Linked DNA regions of Homo sapiens. The protein of the gene in region 1 purifies or fractionates together with the protein of each later gene. This does not show direct contact. Each region holds a gene or a part of one and is shown on either strand. Other genes may lie near its edges.

The links. Proteins that work in one complex are often made in the same cells at the same time.
Region 2: the proteins of SLC35F2 (region 1) and REEP5 purify together in Homo sapiens (affinity purification with mass spectrometry; 2 studies listed by BioGRID and IntAct, with this or other methods). This does not show direct contact.

The regions. Positions count from the first base shown.
Region 1 is NC_000011.10:107,805,985-107,811,285, forward strand, and holds part of SLC35F2 (solute carrier family 35 member F2), read right to left. Parts: intron 893-5,301; coding exon 733-892; intron 1-732.
Region 2 is NC_000005.10:112,887,728-112,891,227, reverse strand, and holds part of REEP5 (receptor expression-enhancing protein 5), read left to right. Parts: intron 1-3,500. UniProt on the Homo sapiens protein: Plays an essential role in heart function and development by regulating the organization and function of the sarcoplasmic reticulum in cardiomyocytes.

The sequences.
Region 1 (5,301 bases):
GTTGGCCAGGCTGGTCTCGAACTCCTGACCTCAGGTGATCCACCCACCTTGGCCTTCCAAAATGTTGGGATTACAGGTGTGAGCCACCGCACCCAACCTGGTTACTAGAAGTTTAAAATCTCTTACTCTTCTCACTTTCTGGTGCAATTCTGCTGTAATTTTTCATAATTTAACTCCTCAGAAGTCTAACAGGCTAGAAACTGATGATATATATCATAATGTAAGGCCTCAGAAAATGATTCCATGACATGACAAATTAATGGAGTTCATTGAAGGGGTAGGTCAATTTGAAAAATGGGAACCTGCTTTCAAAGTAATTTTCCCTCTCAATCCAAAGAGACACTTAACTCACTTGTAGACTGGGTGAATTCACAGACCTTAATTAGATTTTATACTATCAACTATAATTTTCTCTCTCAATCCAAAGAGACACTTAACTCACTTGTAGACTGGGTGAATTCATGGACCTTAATTAGATTTTATAGTATCAACTGTAATTTTCTCTCTCAATCCAAGGAGACGTTTAACTCACTTGAAGATTGGATGAATTCATAGACCTCAATTAGATTTTATACTATCAACTGAATTCAACACAAAGTGTGGCAAAGTGTTCTCACCTACACAGTGACTTAAAAAGAAATACTCCAGTAAACAAGTTTCTTTGTTGATATAAAAGTGAAAACATAAACAAATTTGCTGTGATTGAAGCACAAACATGTGACACCGTCTCACCTGAATTGTCTTCCCTCCCTGCTAGTATGTCTGCACCAACCATGGTTCCTACACCCAACAGACAGACAGCCACGGCGATGAAGTGGATCACTCTGTATCTTGCATGAAGAATAAACCATGACAGAGCCATCAACACAGGAATCCCAAAGCAATCCAAAAGCTGCATGGAAAGAGAATCAACAGTTTAAAACATATCTCTCATTAGCTAAAAGATGGGTAATTAAGAAATAATAGGAGTCAGTATTTATAATAGGAGTCAGTATTTATTGAGCATTTATTATTGCCAGCCCTGTACTAAGAGCTTTACCTGGATTCACTCATTTAATCCTCACAATTCCATGAGACTGAAATTACAATCCAATTTTATACATGAGAAAATGAAGATACAGAGAGGTGAAATGAGTTGCCAAAAACACATAGTTAAAAATGGGATGACAGCTGGGCACGGTGGCTCACGCCTGTAATCTTAGCACTTTGGGAGGCTGTGGCGGGCAGACTGCTTGAGTCCAGGAGTTCGATATCAGCCTGGGCAACATGGTGAAACCCTGTCTGTACAAAAAAAAAAAAAAACAACAACAAAAAAAAACCTTGGGTGTGGTGGTGCACTCCTGTAGTCCCAGCTACTTGGGAGGCTAAGGTGAGAGGATCACTTGAGCCCGGAGTTCAAGGATGCAGTGAGCTGTGATGGTGCCACTGCACTCTAGGCTGTACAACCCAGAGAGACCCTGTCTCAAAATAAATGAATAGATAATAAAATACAATGGAAGAGTCAGTTGCTGTATACAAGAATTCTGCTGAGGGCCTGTGCACTTTACCTCTATGCTCCCACCTGTGTATATCTTTTCTTTTATTTTATTATTATTATTTTTTTTTTGAGATGGAGTCTCGCTCTGTTGCCCAAGCTGGAGCGCAGTGGTGCAATCTCGGCTCACTGCAACCTCTGCCTCTCGGGTTTAAGCAATTCTTCCTGCCTCAGCCTCCCAAGGAGCTGGGATTACAGCCATCTGCCACCATGCCCAGCTAATTTTTGTATCTTTTAGTAGAGATGGGGTTTTGTCATGTTGGCAAGGCTGGTCTCGAACTCCTGATGTCAGGTGATCTGTCTGCCTCGGCCTCCCAAAGTGCTGGGATTACAGGCGTGAGCCACCACGCCTGGCCCTGTGTATATCTTTAAGTTCAGTAGACAAACATTCCTTCCTACCTGCAACCATTTACTCAGTCAACAAATATTTGTTAAACACCTTGCATGTGTGAGACACTGTGAAAGGAGCTAGGAATAGCGGTGAACAGGACAGAGCAAGCTGTGTCCTTAGGAGCACACAAAGCTAGAAAGGACATGGAATAAATAATCACACCACCAGATATTTCACTGGAATCGGGCTAAGCGCTACAAAGAAGCATGGGTTACTGTGAGAGAACAGACACCATCTCCCTGACAAAGCGTCCAACCCCACCATGTGAGACACACTCGTGCTCATGGCAAATACTCTTGCTCATCCTCCTCACATGCTCCCCCTCACCTGTTGATACTGGGTCCAGAAAACACTAGCTATACACCTGATATTGCTCATCTGGAAGGCAGAGGGATTAAGTGTGCCAAAATTACAGCAGGTCCAAAATTGTTTGCAAGATAAAAGATAAAAAAGAGAGTGCACTCACTCAATTCTTAAATTCACAAATTTAATGTGCATTCAAGGATAAAATATATTCAAGAGATTCTTGATGCATTCCAATGTATTTCTTTCAAGGAAGAAATATATTCCTTATACCAGTAATATTCCCGAAACTGCTGTTTTATTGCTCACCCTTTTGTTGTTTCAAACCTTGTCCCTGATTCTCTCTGTATCTGTTTGGTCTTGAACAAGACAGGCCCCTAAATCTCCAACAGCCCATTCGATCCTGTCCACAGTTGTTTACTGATTGCCTTTCACTGCAGTAGCATCAGTGGAGTCCAACGCATCATGTGTAGGAATGGGCATCTTGCCTTGTTATTTATTCCAGCTGCAGAACTCTAATCTCCTAAGTGCTTTATTGAGCCTGCCTGAATAACAAAACATTAAACGATGCAAATGATAATACCCTGTCCCTGAAGACACCAGCAGAATCCAGCCATAACGGCTTAACAAAATCTCAACTACATTCCTTAAACAAAAAAAGTAGAAAAAGACATTCTAAGAACTACCACAGAAGAGTCCCTTGTGTCTTAAAATCAAACTTAAATTTGCTCTATCTTTAACAACTTTTGTTGGGCAATGAGGGAGATGCCTATGTCATGATCAGAGCTCCAGAAACCTCAGGCCCCGGCCCCACGCTGACCAGCTAGCTGTGTGGCCCCAGCCAGTCACTCTCCAAGTCAAAATATAAAATAAAAAGATCAGACGAAATGATCACACAGTTTCCCTCCGACTCTAACATTCCATGACTTCTCATCTGATATCTATCACCTTTAGTCATGTGAACCTTCTTTTCAAAATGTATTCTTGGTGGCCGGGAGTGGTGGCTCATGCCTGTAATCCCAGCACTATGAGAGGCCAAGGCCGGAGGATCACTTGAGGTCAGGAGTTCGAGACCAGCCTGGCCAACATGGCAAAACCTCGTATCTACTCAAAATACAAAAAAAAAAAAAAAAAAAAAAATCAGCTGGGCGCATGCCTGTAATCCCAGCTACTCAGGAGGCCAAGGCTGCAGTGAACCAAGATTATCCCACTTCACTCCAGCTCGGTGACAGAATGAGACTCCACCTCAAAAAAAAAAAAAAAAAAAAAATTAGCCAAGTGTGGTGGCGCGTGCCTGTAATCCCAGCTGCTCAGGAGGCTAAGGCAGGAGAATCACTTGAACCTGGGAGGCGGAGGCTGCAGTGAGCCAAGATCATGCCATTGTACTCCAGCCTGGGTGACAGAGCAAGACTCCTTCTCAGAAAAAAAAAAAGTATTCTTGGTGATGGATGTCTTCTCTGTTTCAGTTCGAAGAGTATCAATTTTATTTTTAAAAATTATTGTATAGTCACAGTAAGCAGAGTACTAAGACAGACCCTGCGACATGGGTATAAAAACAAGTTAGATCATATTAGAGGTACAATAGAGTATAGAAGAGAAAATGAAAATTGAATTAACCTTTGACAATGAGGGGAGCAGGCTTCAAAAAGGACTGCATTCTAGGAAGAACAGAGCAGCACAGGGGAGAAGGAGCAGGCCATGAGTGGGAAATGGGTTGATGTGGCAGTAAAGTGGGAAGGGACATGAGCAGCAACCTGGGCCACATCATCATCTTCACGTGAACTATCCCATGACTGTTGGTAATTACAGAACCTTCTAAGGAATCCTTAAGAAGAAGGTTCAAAGACCACCTAATCCAGATTTCCATCCTTTTGGACTACCCAGGCCAGAGATTTACTCAGTTGGAGAACCAGCTTGAATCATTCCTATCACAGCTGTCGCTGCTGCTGGAGAAAACATTACCTTGTTAGATGCCTTTTTTATAATATATTCTTTGCTAGGACCGTAAGTGCATGACTTTTGGCAACCAAATGCTTAGGTTTTTCTAAGAGGCTAGCGTGAAAGAAATTGTTTTCAATTTCTTTGAAATTGAAAGAAGGCATGAACTTCAGTCGCAACTATCCAACTGTAAGTGTTCTGTTTAACTGTGTTTAGGCCTTGCACCAATTCAAAACTTTTTATCATTAGTTAGAGATCAAAGTTCCTGGGAATTGTAATCAAGTAATTAAAATGTAGGTGAGATTATGAGAGTAGATGTGACAAGAAAATACCATTTTCTACATACTTATGTATACTTCATTAACCAACGCTAAAAGTACACTTACTCCTATTAGTGATAAACTTCATTCTCTAGGTAACTGCTGGGTTTAATTTTTACGAAACTTTAGGTTCTTTTTGTGCCTCCTATAGTGTCTGTCTTAATAAATCATTTCCTATCTCAGCTTTTTAACCCATACTGGTCAAAATCCAAGAGGTTTCCTGAGAACAATGCTTAGCACAATGTTACAGAAAAGAAAGTAGTTAATATAATGGTAGTAACATTTAATGTAGGTTCACACTGGAAAAATACTGAGTTCTCATCAATCCTTATATTTTCTATGCGAAATAAGTCTAATTTCAATTTTTCCAGTCCCTAAAATTTGGAGTCAAGTAAGAACATCTCTGTATTTTGTATAGTGAGAAAGGGACATATCAAAAAGTTATAAACTTCAAATCCCACATCTGATACACACTTTTTTTTATTATTTAAAAAAATGAAAAAAAAGTTATAAACAAACTGTGACATCTAAACCTGGCATTTGAGTCTATCTCACTTTCACCTCCACTTATAAAACATTTTGTAGTCAGTAATGGTGAGTCAGTGTTAGGAAACATCCCATAGTTTGCTAACATTAAGACAACTGAAATCAGTTGTCTTCAACTTTACAAAGTTGAAAACCTCTGCAATGTAGGAATATTTTTCTTTCAATGCAGCAAGAATAAACCTAACAAAGAAATAGGGATGGGAGTTTTAACTCTGGCTACCACCTCTCCCAAAAATGTCTACTGGGTTTCTTCCAATGGTTTCTTTGTC
Region 2 (3,500 bases), on another chromosome or scaffold:
GGTAGCACGTGCCTGTAATCCCAGCTACTTGGGAGGCTGAGGCAGGAGAACTGCTTGAACCCAGGAGGCAGAGGTTGCAGTGAGCCAAGACTGTGCCACTACACTCCAGCCTGGGTGACAGAGTGAGACTCTGTCTCAAAAATAAAAAATAAAAATAAATATTTGCTTAAATATTTTTGGTTCTAGGATTTGCTTTCCCCTACTGAAAGCTAACATGTTCTCCTGTTAGTAATGTTTCATAGATGTTGTTAGAAAACACAGTATTCTTGGGTCAGAGAAAGTCCTTGCTATGCTTAGTAATTTTATTTTCTTACAAAATTATAGGGGTAAATTTTAAAATTTTCAATTAATACCTATTTTATAGAGGAAAAACCAGACTTAAGTGATTAAGTAACTTGTATAAGGTTTGCTTAGCTAGTAAATGGCAGAACCAGGATTGGAAGTTAGTTTCTTTGAGTCCATCCTGTTACTCTCTATATACTATATTAACTCTTTGAATCCCTCTTTGTTGGGTTGAGAGATCTGTATATATCTTTAGAGTGAGATTTTAGGCCAGGTGCAGTGGCTCACACCTGTAATCCCAGCACTTTAGGAGGCTGAGATGGGTGGATCACTTGAGGTCAGGAGTTCGAGACCAGCCCGGCCAACATGGCGAAACCCCATCTCTACAAAAAGTACAAAAATTAGCCAGACGTGATGGTGCGTGCCTGCATGCCTGTGGTCTTCAGCTACCTGGGGGGCTGAGGCGGGAGAATCACTTGAGCCCAGGAAGTTGAGGCTATAGTGTTTTGTATTTGTGCCACTGCACTCCTGCCTGGGTGACAAAGTGAAACCCTTTTTTATTTAAAAAAAAAAAAAGACTTAAATTTTGTGTTCTTTATTCTGTATTCTTACTAATTTCTAGGTTGTTTTATATATCAACTTTTTTTTGTCTTTTTGAGACAGGGTCTTGCTGTCTCACCAAGCCTGGATTGCAGTGATGGTATCACAGCTCACTGCAGTCTCGACCTCCCAAGGTCAAGCCACCCTCCCACCTCAACCTCCCAGGAGGACCACAGGCATACATCACCAAGCCTGGCTAATTTTAAATTTATTTTTTGTGGCCGGGTGCGGTGGCTCACGCCTGTAATCCCAGCACTTTGGGAGGCCGATGGGGGTGGATCATTTGAGGTCAGGAGTTCAAGACCAGCCTGGCCAACATGGTGAAACCCCGTCTCTACTAAAAATACAAAAATTAGCTGGGCATGGTGGTGTTTGCCTGCAGTCCCAGCTACTTGGGAGGCTGAGACAGGAGAATCGCTTGAATCCGGGAGGCGGAGGTTGCAGTGAGCTGATATTGTGCCACAGCACTCCAGCCTGGGTAAGAGAGCAAGAATCAGTCTCAAAAAAAAAAAAAAATTTTTTTTTTCCTAGAGATGTGGTCTCCCTATGTTACACAGGCTAGTCTCAAAACTCTTGGGCTCATGTGATCCTCCAACCTCAGCCTCCCAAAGTGCTGGGATTACAGGTGTAAGCCTGGCTAGTATATCAATTTCTGATGGAAATGTTAAAATCTATGATTGCAGATTTTGTCCATTTGTCTATATAATTCTGACTTACATTTAAATATTTCAAAGCCATATTTGAAAGCTATCTATAGCTATATATAAATATATAATTATAAAAATAATTCTATTGCAAACATATGCAAAGTTAGATATAATTTACGTATTTCAAAGGTATATACAAGTTCAGGAATTTTAATATTCTTGGTGAATTGCTTTCCTTCTTTATCATCCTATTTACTTATTTTGCCTTAAGTAATTTGTATGTATTAATATTGCTAATGAGCTATTTTGGGAGTTGGTGTTTGTCTGATATATCTTTCCCATAACTTTATTTTCAGTGTTCCTATTTGGTTTTGTTGTAGGTATGTTTCTTAAGCATACAGCTATAGTTTTGGGGTTTTATAAAAAATTTAGTCCTATAGTGTCTGGGTTTTGTTTTGTTTTTGAGATGAGCTCTTGCTCTGTTGCCCAGGATGGTCTCTGCATTTGTCTGTTCTCATGCTGCTAATAAAGACATAGCCGAGACTGGGCAATTTATAAAGGAAAGAGGTTTAATTGACTCACAGTTCCACATGGTTGTGGAGACCTCACAATCATGGTGGAAGATGAAGGAAAAGCAAAGGGATGTCTTACATGGTGGCGGCAGGCAAGAAAGAATGAGAGCCCAAGCGAAAGGGGAAACTCCTTATAAAACTATCACATCTCGTGAGACTTATTCACTACCATGAGAACAGTATGGCAGGAAACCACCCCCATGATTCAGTTATCTCTCACCCTGTCCTTTCCACAACACATGAGAATTATGGGAGCTACAGTTCAAGATGAGATTTGGGTGGGGACACAGCTAAACCATGTCAGTCTCCAACTCCTGGGCCCAAGCAATCCTTGCACCTTGGCCTCCCAAGTCACTGGGACTACAGGTGCATGCCACCATGCCTAGCAAGTCTCTGTCTTAAAAACTCTTGTGCATGTGTAACAAATTTTAATTCACAAAGGTTACATTTCAAGAGTTACTTTTTACTGTAGTTGAGATAAGGGGAGTCTGGACAACATTGTGACACTTGTCTCTACAAAAAAAAGTTATAAAAAATTAGCCAGGCCTGGTGGTTCATGCCTGCAGTCATTCCCAGCTACTTGGGAGGCTGTGGGAAGATTGTTTGAACCCAGGAGTTCAAGGCTGCAGTAAGCCATGTTCATGCCACTGCACTCCAGCCTGGGTGACAGAGCAAGACTCTCAGAAAGAATAATCTGGAGATATTGTTGAGAACTTGGGTTTTGTTTTTTATTTTGAGTGTTATACAAGTTCAAAGTCTAGTATAAATTTCTCAGAGCCAACATGGTGCTGATGGAGTGAGCTATTTGTGCATTTTAAACTGAAACTCTTGTCATTAGTGTTAGCCCTTTATCAGCTTTGTATCTCTAAAACACCTGAAAGACTGTCTTAGAAAACCATCATAGCTTGTTGATTATGAGTACATCCCTTGGTTTGGAATCATAAGGACTAAGACTTAAATTTAAAGCATGAGAAATTAAGATGTTTTTACACTAAGGAGAAGTTGTAAAAAATACTGATTTGGAATCTCTGTAAGTGACTTCTGTTTTTTTGTAGAGTCACCTAGGCTGTGTGGAATACAATGTGGTTAGAATCTTTTAAACTAAAATAACTCAGTATATTGTTTATTAAACTTTCTAGGGAAATGGGCAGATTACTCTGAATATTCCTTTTCCTTCTGCTTTTCTTTTTATCTTAAAAAGGAGTAAATTGCATGGATGACTTGAAGTGACGAGTTGGTATTTATTATTTGAATCAACAGTAAAAATTTTTTGGACATAGTGTGAAAATCCTTATTTAAGTAATTAGGGCAGAATTCTTGTCAATTAAAAAAAAATCTCAATGGCAAAGTAGAGCTGTAAAGAAGGAGTTAGGAATAATAACTACATTCAAGATGAAAG